Linked DNA regions of Homo sapiens: region 1 is linked to region 2. Evidence: fine-mapped expression QTL. A gene starts in region 2. The other region holds a variant in brackets. All regions are shown on one strand. Distances are from middle to middle.

Region 1 (5,374 bases), 25 kb before region 2:
TCACACACCAGCTGTGTGATCTTTGACAGGTAACTCACCCTCTCTGTGCTCAGTTTTCTCACTGGTAAAATGGTGATACTAATAGAACCAACCTTATTGAGCTGCTGCTGTGAGGATTAAATGAGTTAGTATGCATGAAGTGCCTGGCACACAATAGGTATCATGTTGTTATAATCTGTTTTAATTATCATTAAGATAGTTTAACAACTGGCCAGGCGCGGTGGCTCCCGCCTGTAATCCCAGCACTTTGGGAGGCTGAGGCAGGCAGATCACTTGAGGTCAGGAGTTCCAGACTAGGCTGGCCAACATGGGGAAACCCCGTCTCTACCCAAAATACAAAAATTAGTTGTGCGTAATGGCGCATGCCTATAATCCCAGCTACTTGGGAGGCTGAGGCAGGAAAATGGCTTGAACCCAGGAATCGGAGGTTGCAGTGAGCTGAGATTGCGCCACTGCACTCCAGCCTGGGTGATAGAGTGAGACTCCATCTCTAAACAAACAAACAAACAAAAAACACATAGTTTAACACCTGAAGGGGAATCTAAAGAAGAGGGTGAAAGACTGTTGAGAATAACAAGGGCCCACGTGTTGTCATGAAACTGCAAACAGTTCGTACCAATTCCCACAACCCATCACATGCAGGCATACCTTGTTTTATGCGCTTTGCAGATACTGCATTTTTTACACGCTGAAGGTATGCAGCGACCCTGCACTGAGCAAGTCTATCAGTGCTGTTTTCCCAGCTGCATGCACTCACTTTGTGTCTCCGTGTTACTTTGGTAATTCTCACAATGTTTCAAACTTTTTTGTAATTATCATGTCTGTGATGGTGATCTGTGATCAGTGATCTTCGATGTTGCTATTGTCCTCTTTTTGGGGCACCATGAAGCACGTCCGTATATGAAGGCGAACTTCATAAATGTGTGTGTTCTGACTGCTCCACCACTGATAGCTCCCCTGTCTCTCTCTCCCTCTCCTGTGGCCTCCCTATTCCCTGCAATGCAATGATATTGAAATTAAGCCAAATAATAACTCTACAATGGTCTTTAAGTGTTCAACTGAAAGGAAGAGTCACATGTCTCTCACTATTTATTTATTTATTGAGGCAGGATCTCACTCTGTCACCCAGCCTGGAGTACACTGGTGTGATCTTGGCTCACTGAAACTTCCCCCTCTGGGGTTCAAGTGATTCTCCTGCCTCAGCCTTCTGAGTAGCTGGCATTACAGGTGGGTGCCACCATGCCTGGCTAATTTTTGTGTTTTTAGTAGAGATGGGGTTTCACCATGTTGGCCAGGCTAGTCTGGAATTCCTGACTCTAAGTGATCTGCCTGCCTTGGCCTCCCAAAGCACTGGGATTACAGACGTGGGCCACCACGTCTGGCCACATATCTCTCACTTTAGATCAAAACCTAGAAATGATTAAGCTTGGTGAAGAAGCCATGCCAAAAGCCAAGATGGGCTGAAGGCCTTTTGCACCAAACAGCCAAATTCTGAATGCAAAGAAAAAGTTATTGAAGGAAATTAAGAGTGTTACTCCAGTGAACATATGAATGATAAGAAAGTGAAACAGCCTAATTGCTGATATGAAGGAAGTCTGAGTGATCTGGATAGAAGATCAAACCAGCCACAACATCCCCTTAAGCCAAAGCCAAATCCAGAGCAAGGTCCGAATGCTCTTCAGTTCTATGAAGGCTGAGAGACGTGAGGAAGCTTCAGAAGAAAAATTGGAAGTCAGCAGAGGTGGAAGTCAGCAGGGTTCATGAGGTTTAAGGAAAGAAGCAATCTCCACAACATAAAAGTACAAGGTGAAGCAGCAAGTACAGATGGAGAAGGCGCAGCAAGTTCTCCAGAAGATCTCTGATGAAGGTGGCTACACTCAACAACAGGTTTTCAGTGTAGATGAGATGGCCTTCGATGGAAGAAGATGGCATCTAGGACTTTCAGAGAAGTCAATGCCTGGCTTCAAAGCTTCAAAGGACAAGTTGACTCTCTTGTTAGAGGCTAATGCAGCTGGTAGGACTTCAAGTTGTAGCCAGTGGTCATTTACCATTTGGAAAATTCCAGGGCCCTGAAGAATGATGCTAAATCCACCCTTCTTGTGCTCTAGAAATGGAACAAAGCTGGGGTGACAGCACATCTGTTTATAGCATGCTTGACTGAGTGTTTTAAGCCCATTCTGGAGACCTGCTGCTCAGAAAAATAGATTTCTTTCCAAAGTTTGCTGCTTATTGACAGTGCACCTGATCACCCAAGAGCTCTGATGGAGATGTTCAAGGAGATTAGTGTTGTTTCCATGCCTGCAAACACAACACCCATTCTGCAGTCCATGGACCAAGGAGTAATTTCGACTTTCAAGTCTCATTATTTCAGAAATACATTTCATAAGGCTATAGCTGCCATAGATAGTGATTCTTCTGATGGATCTGGGCAAAGTCAATTGAAAACCTTCTGGAAAAAAATTCACCATTTTAGATGCCATTAAGAACATTCATGATTCATCAGAGGGGGTCAAAATATCAACATTAACACGAGTTCGGGAGAAGCTGATTCTGATTCTCATGGATGACTTTGAGTGGCTCAAGGCTTCAGGGGAGGAAGTGA[T/C]TGCGGATGTGTGGAAATAGAGAACCAGAATTAGAAGTGGAGCCTGAATTGCTGCAGTCTCATGATGAAACTTGCACAGATGAGGACCTGCTTCTTACAGATGAGGAAAGAAAGTGTTTTTTTTTTTTTTCAGATGGAATCTATTCCTGGTGAAGATGATATAAATATTGTTGAAATGACAACACAAGATTAAGAATATTACATAATCCCAGCACTTAGGGAGGCTGAGGTGGGCAGACCACCTGAGGTCAGGAGTTCAAGACCAGCCTGGCCTACATAGGGAAACCTCTCTACTAAACATCTCTACTAAAAAAATTAGCTGGGTGTGGTGGCAGATGTCTGTAATCCCAGCTACTCAGGAGGCTGAGGCAGGAGAATCGCTTGAACCCCTCAGGCAAAGGTTGCAGTGAGCCGAGATCACACCACTGCACTCTAGCCTGGGCGACAGAGTGAAAGTGTGTCTCAAAAAAAAAAAAAAAAAGAATATTATATAAACGTAGTTGATAAATCAGCATAGAATTTGAGAGAATTGACTCCAACTTTCTTTTTTTATTTTTTATTTTTTATTTATTTTTTTATTTTTTATTTTTTTTATTGATCATTCTTGGGTGTTTCTCGCAGAGGGGGATTTCGCAGGGTCATAGGACAATAGTGGAGGGAAGGTCAGCAGATAAACAAGTGAACAAAGGTCTCTGGTTTTCCCAGGCAGAGGACCCTGCGGCCTTCCGCAGTGTTTGTGTCCCTGGGTACTTGAGATTAGGGAGTGGTGATGACTCTTAACGAGCATGCTGCCTTCAAGCATCTGTTTAACAAAGCACATCTTGCACCGCCCTTAATCCATTTAACCCTGAGTGGACACAGCACATGTTTCAGAGAGCACAGGGTTGGGGGTAAGGTCACAGATCAAGAGGATCCCAAGGCAGAAGAATTTTTCTTAGTACAGAACAAAATGAAAAATCTCCCATGTCTACTTCTTTCTACACAGACACGGCAACCATCCGATTTCTCAATCTTTTCCCCACCTTTCCCCCCTTTCGATTCCACAAAACCGCCATTGTCATCATGGCCCGTTCTCAATGAGCTGTTGGGTACACCTCCCAGACGGGGTGGTGGCCGGGCAGAGGGGCTCCTCACTTCCCAGTAGGGGCGGCCGGGCAGAGGTGCCCCTCACCTCCCGGACGGGGCGGCTGGCCGGGCGGGGGGCTGACCCCCCCACCTCCCTCCTGGACGAGGCAGCTGGCCGGGCGGGGGGCTGACCCCCCCCCCCACCTCCCTCCCGGACGGGGCAGCTGGCCGGGCAGAGGGTCTCCTCACTTCCCAGTAGGGGCGGCCGGGCAGAGGCGCCCCTCACCTCCCGGACGACTCCAACTTTCAAAGAAGCTCTACTGTGGCCAAATGTTATCAACCAGCATCGCATGCTCCAGAGAAATTTCATGAAAGGAAGAGTCCATCCAGGCAGCAAACTTCCTCACGGTCTTATTTTAGGAAATTGCCATAGCCACCCCAACCTCCAGCAGTTGCCACTGTGATCAGTCAGCCGTGTCACCATCAGGCAAGACCCTCCACCAGCAAAAAGATTATGCCTTGCTAAAGGCTTAAACGATTGTTAGCATTTTTTACCAATCAAATATTTTATTTTTATTTTTGAACTTTTAGATTTAGAGGGGGTACACCTAGCCTTTCTAGACTCCCTCAGTAATTGGTAAATTTCTCTTTTTATTTTGTTATTATTCCTTTTTTTCTTTTCTTTTTTTTAATTTTTATTTTTTAGAGACAGAATCTCATCATGTCACTCAGGCTGGAGTTCAGTGGCGCAATCATAGCTGACTGCAGCCTCGAACTCCTGGACTGAAGAGATCCTCCTGCCAAAGACTCCTGAGTAGCTGGGACCACAGGCACAAAGCCAGTGTGCCCTGCCCATTATTATTACCTTTTTTTTTGAGACAGAGTCTCGCTCTGTCACCCAGACTGGAGCACAGTGGTGCAATCTCCGCTCACTGCAACCTCTGCCTCCCGGGTTCAAGTGATTCTCCTGCCTCAGCCTCCTGAGCAGCTTGGATTGCAGGTATGTGCCATCATGCCCAGCTAATTTTTGTTTATTTAGTAGAAACGGGGTTTCACCATGTTGGCCAGGCTGGTCTGGAACTCCTGACCTCAGATGACCCACCCGCCTCGGCCTCCCAAAGTGTTGGGATTACAGGTGTGAGCCACCGCGTCCAGCCATTATTATCACTTTTAATGGCTGCTAGTTCCAGGGTGCACAGAGATTTAAAGGGCACATTCTTCCAGGGATTGGGCATAACATGAGCACTGGGAATGAAGGTGATAGGTTCTACAGGGGAGGCAGTGCCTGGGAGGGTGGATCTGGGTGTGGGTGCGACCACTCCCTACCCCACCGCGGCTTTTTCTTGTCCTTTGAAGAGACAGAGTGACAGCAAGAAACAAAAAGGGGACTTGGGCCTGGGGTTGGACGGTCTGGTGTTAGGTCTGCAGTCAGCCTCTTAAAGGCTACCTGGGGTTGACACTGTCCCCAACCTCTCTCCTGCATCTTTGCAACGAGGGAGGTGAGGTTGGACAAACTCTGAGGTCCCTTTCAGCCTTAATACTCATTGTGATATATTATTGACTGCTGGCTGTATCCTGGGTGCTGTTCTAAGAACCGTAGGAATTCCTCTCCTGAGCATGGCTAAACTCTGAGCTAATAGTATCATTATATGAAAGATGAGGAAACGGAGGCACAGACAGATTGAGTCCTTGCCCACGGCCTCGTGG
Region 2 (5,374 bases):
GTGGTGGTGTGTGCCTGTAATCCCAGCTACTCGGGAGGCTCAGACAGGAGAATCACTTGAACCTGGGAGGCAGAGGTTGCAATGAGCTGAGATTGCACCACTGCACTCCAGCCTGGGCGACAGAGCAGGACTCCATCTCAAAATAAAAATTAATTGATTAATTAATTAAAAATTTACTGAGAGCTGGTGGTTCCTTTAAGGGTGGAGCCGCCATCAAGTCCCCAGAGGATGCCCTGAATTTGGGGGCATCACCTTCAGCTGCTGTGGACTCTGAGCCTTGGCAGCTCCAGCTCCAGGCCTGGGAGAAAGATGATTTCCTGGCAGCGTGCAGTGATTGTGAGCATTTGACTACCTTACTGCATTTTGCCCTTATCATTGCTCTCCAAACATGAGTGGAAAACAAAAAATTTTGCTGAGACAAGCGATAATACGAGTTAGGGAAAGTTGGAGAATTTTATAGTTGCTGATATCAGCAAATCGTGAGTTTCAAGCACTACTTACAGAAGGAAGTCCAAAATTAAAGGGGATATAGAAATGTGTAAAAGATGAGGTGTGGTGAAGATGGAGAAAATGAAGAGCTCTTTAAATTTCTGAATTATGAAGAATCACCAACAAATTATTTTGTGGTTCCAAATACAGGGAGAAGTTCACAGATCCACAGAACTGATGACAGGGTGCGGCCAGCCACAAACCTTTCAGCACAAGAGGGAGAAGGCTGCCGCTCCACTTTGCCTGGGCAGTCTTTGTAAGGCAGTAGATAAGTCAGCCTCGAAGTTAGCAATCACAGCCCTCGGCTCGGTTTCCTGCAAGGGCATCGTTAATGCATCACAATTAATTTCTTCTGTCCATTAAATGTCAGCTCTCAAGTAAATTGATGTAAAATTTTTGTATAGAAAACTATTTCATATTATTTGCACTTGATGTTTAATTACATTTTAAATGTTTTGTTTGTTTCATTTTGTTTTGTTTTTGAGACAGAGTCTTGCTCTGTTGCCCACGCTGGAATGCAGTGGTGTGATCTTGACTCACTGCAACCTCTGCCTCCTGGGTTTAAGCGATTCTCCTGCCTCAGCTTCCTGAGTAGCTGGGATTACAGGCGTGCACCACCATGCCTGGCTAATCTTTGTATTTTTAGTAGAGATGGGGTTTCACCATGTTGGCCAGGCTGGTCCCGAACTCCTGACCTCAAGCTATACACCTGCCTCAGCCTCCCAAAGTGCTGGAATTACAGACATAAGCCACTGTGCCCAGCCAAATGTTTTAAATAATTGTCACATATATATACAAAATAATTTATGTTATAGGTAGGGATCTTGTTATATTTTAACCTTCAAAGTATATTCCTAAGCTTTTTATTTATTTTTTATTTTTTATTTATTGAGACAGTCTTGCTCTGTCGCCCAGGCTGGAGTGCAGTGGCGCAATCTTGACTCACTGCAAACTCTACCTCCTGGGTTCAAGCGATTCTCCTGCCTCAGCCTCCTGAGTAGCTGGGATTACAGGTGCGCACCACCATGCCCAGCTAATTTTTGTATTTTTAGTAGAGACGGGGTTTCACCATATTGGCCAGAGCTGGTCTCAAACTCCTGACCTCAGGTGATCCATCCACCTCAGCCTCTCAAAGTGCTGGGATTATAGGTGTGAGCCACTGCGCCTGGCCTATTCCTAGCCTTTTATATATAGACCTTTTTCTTTTTCACATTTTAAAGGAACTTTTATGTTTAATCATGGAATATTTCAAACATACAGAAAAATCACAGAAAATAAATAACAACCACTCATTTATCTTCTCCCCAACCCCATGTAATAAATATTAAAATATTGTGTTAAATGCTAAATTTAACACATGCTAAAGGTTCCTGGCTGGATGTGGTGGCTCACGCCTGTAATCCCAGTACTTTGGGAGGAGGAGGTGGGAGGATTGCTTGAGTCCAGGAGCTCGAGACCAGCATGGGCAACATAGTGCGATCTCGTCTCTACAAAAAACAAAAAAATTAGCTGGGCATGGTGGTGTGCATCAGTAATCCCAGTGACTGGGAGGCTGAGGTGGGAGAATTGCTTGAGTCTGGGAATTTGAGGCTGCAGTGAGCCCTGATCATGCCACTGCATTCCAGCATGGGCGACATAGCAAAACTTGTCAAAAAAAAAAAAAGTTTCCTCTCTGCCCCACCATAGACAACCACTCTTCTGATTTCTATCTTCGTAGATGAATTTTGCCCATTCTCTTGTATATGAAAGGAACCAGACATTAGGCATTCTGGTGTCTGGTTTCTTTCACTTAAGATAAAATTGAGTTAACCTGTATTGTTGTACAGAACTGCAGTTTGTTCTTTGTTATTTATTGTAAAGACAGGGTCTGGCTATGTTGCCTAGGCTGGTCTCGAACTGTTGGCCTCAAGCAATCCACCTGCCAAGCTCTGGGACCACAGGCATGAGCCATGGCATCTGATCTGTAGTTTGATCTTATTTCTTGCTGAGTAGTAGCCCATGGCATGACTTTATTATTTTGGGTGTCCATTCTCCTCTGGAGGGGCTCTGCTTTTTGAAACCACACCCTGGCCTAGCTCCCCTTCTCCCTGCCTCTCTGCCGGCTCACATCCACATGCCAAGACCTCTGCAGCCATTCTGCTTCCTGTCCTTCCACTCCTGTGGGACCTCAGAGAGCTACGGGGCTCCCTGGGTACCAACTGGCTCCTGAGGCCTGGGGGAGGGTGGTCTTCTGGGAGAAGGAAGCCAGGTCCCTGCAGGTTGTGGAGGGGGACAGAATGAGGGTTTTTCCCCAGGGTGTTGTTGGCCCCTGCCCCCACTTCTGTTCCATAATTAACCACGCCCCTCCTACCCACTGTGCCCCTCTTCCTGCTGTGTGGAGGCCCTGAATCATTATTTTAACTACCCCCTGGGAGGGTGAGCACCTTCTGTGCTCTGTCCCCAACCTTCCACTTCCCCTCAACGCGCTGCTCAGGGATGACCTTCGGCACTGTGCTTCTTCTGAGTGGTAAGTGGGGCCAGGGTGCTGGGGAGAAGCTTGGAGGAGTTCTGAGGGGACTCCATCTGGGAGGGCAGGCTGGGGGCTGGTGGTCGGCTCCAACCACTCTTATGAGGAGCTGAGGCAGGGGAGTGCTTCATGTGCGAGTGGCCCGGAGTCAGTAGAGTGTGACCTGAATGAAGAGGGGCTCAGGGGCTGTGCTCAGGTGGCGACTAAGCTACCTCTCCAGCTGGCTATGTTGTCCCAGGCTTCCCTGCTCCCACTCATGGAGTCCCTGGTGTGGGTGACAGAGGTCTCCCCAGCCTCCCCCGGGAGTGGAAGGCCACAGAAGCCACCAGGGAGGGGGAAAGGTTGGACATCACCTCCCTGGGCCTGTTTCCCCCAAGTCCTGACTGCACGTAGGGAAGAGGCCCCCTGCTGAAAACTGCATCAGAGTCACATTCACGTGCCATCAAAAATCAGGCTTGGCTGGGTGCGGTGGCTCATGCTTATAATCCCAGCACTTTGGGAGGCCGAGATGGGCGTATCCCCTGAGGTCAGGAGTTTGTGACCAGCCTGGCCAACATGGTGAAACCCCATCTTTACCAAAAATATAAAAATTAGCCGGGCATGGTGGCGTGCACTTGTAATCCCAGCTACTTGGGAAGCTGAGGCAAGAGAATCGCTTGAACCCAGGAGACGGAAGTTGCAGTGAGCTGAGATCGTGCCGTTGCACTCCAGCCTCAGCAACAGAGCGAGACTCCATCTCAAAAAAAAAAAAAAAAAAAAGAAAAAAAAGAAAAAGAGGCTGGGAGGTCCTAGGGATTGGGGCTTCTTTAACTCCCAGCCTCCCCGCCCACCAAATATTCCTCAGTCCTGGCTTCTTATCATGGATTCAACCTGGATGTGGAGGAGCCTACGATCTTCCAGGAGGATGCAGGCGGCTTTGGGCAGAGCGTGGTGCAGTTCGGTGGATCTCGGTAGGCCCCACTCACCCTCCTTCCCCAACCTCCACTACATCAAGTCCTGTGGATGGGTACACGTGGGTTACCCCAGGGAGGTGTCCTGGAGGAAGGCCAGCAGGGGTGAGAAGTCTTCCCTTGGCTCCTTGGAGGCCCTGACATCAGCACCTATTATTCTCAATCCCAGGAAAGGCCACAAAACTCTAGACAAGACCCTACCTTACCTCGGGAGGGAAGCCTTGAACCTGCCTCCCAGGCAGGGCCCACTTCTTGGGGCCAGTATGGTCACACAGGGCCCACACTCATTAACTTTGGAGTTTAATGTTCTGCCCTTGACCTCTTGAAATTCCTGATTATTTTTATTTTTATTTTTACTCCAGCTCTGTTACCCAGGCTGGAGTGCAGTGGTGCAATCACAGCTTACTGCAGCCTCAAACTCTCGGGCACAAGTGATCCTCTCACCTCAGCCTCCTGAATAGCTGGGACCACAGGTGCATGCCATCATGCCTGTTTTTTGTTTTGTTTTGTTTTACTTTTTACAGAGATGGAGTCTTGCTATGTTGTCCAGACTGGCTGAACTCCTGGGCTCAAGCAATCCTCCTGCCTTGGCCTCCCAAAGTGCTGGGATTACAGGTGTGAGCCACCCTGTCTTGCCAATTCTTAAAAATTTTATCTGTGCATTTGTGTTTTGCAAGTAAAGAATGATGGCAGGGCTGGGCACCATGGCTCACGCCTATAATCCCAACGCTTTGGGAGGCTGAGGCGGGCAGATCATCTGAGGCCAGGAGTTTGAGACCAGTTTGGCCAACACAGCAAAACCCCATCTCTACTAAAAATGCAAAAAAAATTAGCCGGGCATGGTGGCAGGCATCTGTAATCCCAGCTACTTGGGAGGCTGAGGCAGGAGAATCGCTTGAACCTGGGAGGTGGAGGTTGCAGTGAGCCGAGATCGTGCCACTTTACTCCAGCCTAGGTGACAGAGTGAGACTCCGTCAAAAAAAAAAAGTCATGGGAGAAGGGAGATGCACTGGGGGTTTGGAGCCTTAGCTCAGCAGCAGCCCCACCTCCCACCGCCTCCTGAAGGGTGGTGAAGGGGTATCAGCTGCTGGCTCCCCCACCCATGTGGGAGCAATGACCGCTGCTACCTTCCGCCCCTGGCATGAGCTGGGTAAAGTCAGTTAGGGGCGCTCACTCTGGGAGTACCCCGAGGGAGTGGGACACTACATAGCAAATAAAAAACGTCAGGACAGGTTGAGGAAGAGAGCAGAAGAAAGGTAAGAGCCCCCCAACCCCAAGAGACCCCACAGTTTTATTTCAAATTGGGACCCACAAATTATGAACCTGCCCCCACTTCCAGGAGCTCACATTCTCCTGTCCCAGAGAGTTCAAGTCACAATGTGACACAGGTGTCACCAAGGTCTGGGGGGCGCAGGCAGGGAGAGAGCAG

What was found. PIP is the estimated chance that this variant, and not a neighbour inherited with it, causes the effect. A credible set is the group of variants that fine-mapping cannot tell apart.
Region 1: its variant is the best candidate, but not a certain one, in a credible set for the expression of ITGAD in whole blood (TOPMed, PIP 0.83).

The regions. Positions count from the first base shown.
Region 1 is chr16:31,365,432-31,370,805 of GRCh38, forward strand. The region is part of intron 14 of ITGAX (integrin subunit alpha X); the gene reads left to right. Among named protein-coding and RNA genes, the nearest start is that of ITGAX, 13 kb to the left of the region's middle. RefSeq lists an enhancer at 3,128-3,734. The variant T/C (reference allele first, on the strand shown) is at 2,603.
Region 2 is chr16:31,390,397-31,395,770 of GRCh38, forward strand. ITGAD (integrin subunit alpha D) reads left to right here and starts at 2,939. Exons shown (of 30, transcript NM_005353.3): 1 at 2,939-2,995; 2 at 3,840-3,945. The coding sequence starts at 2,965.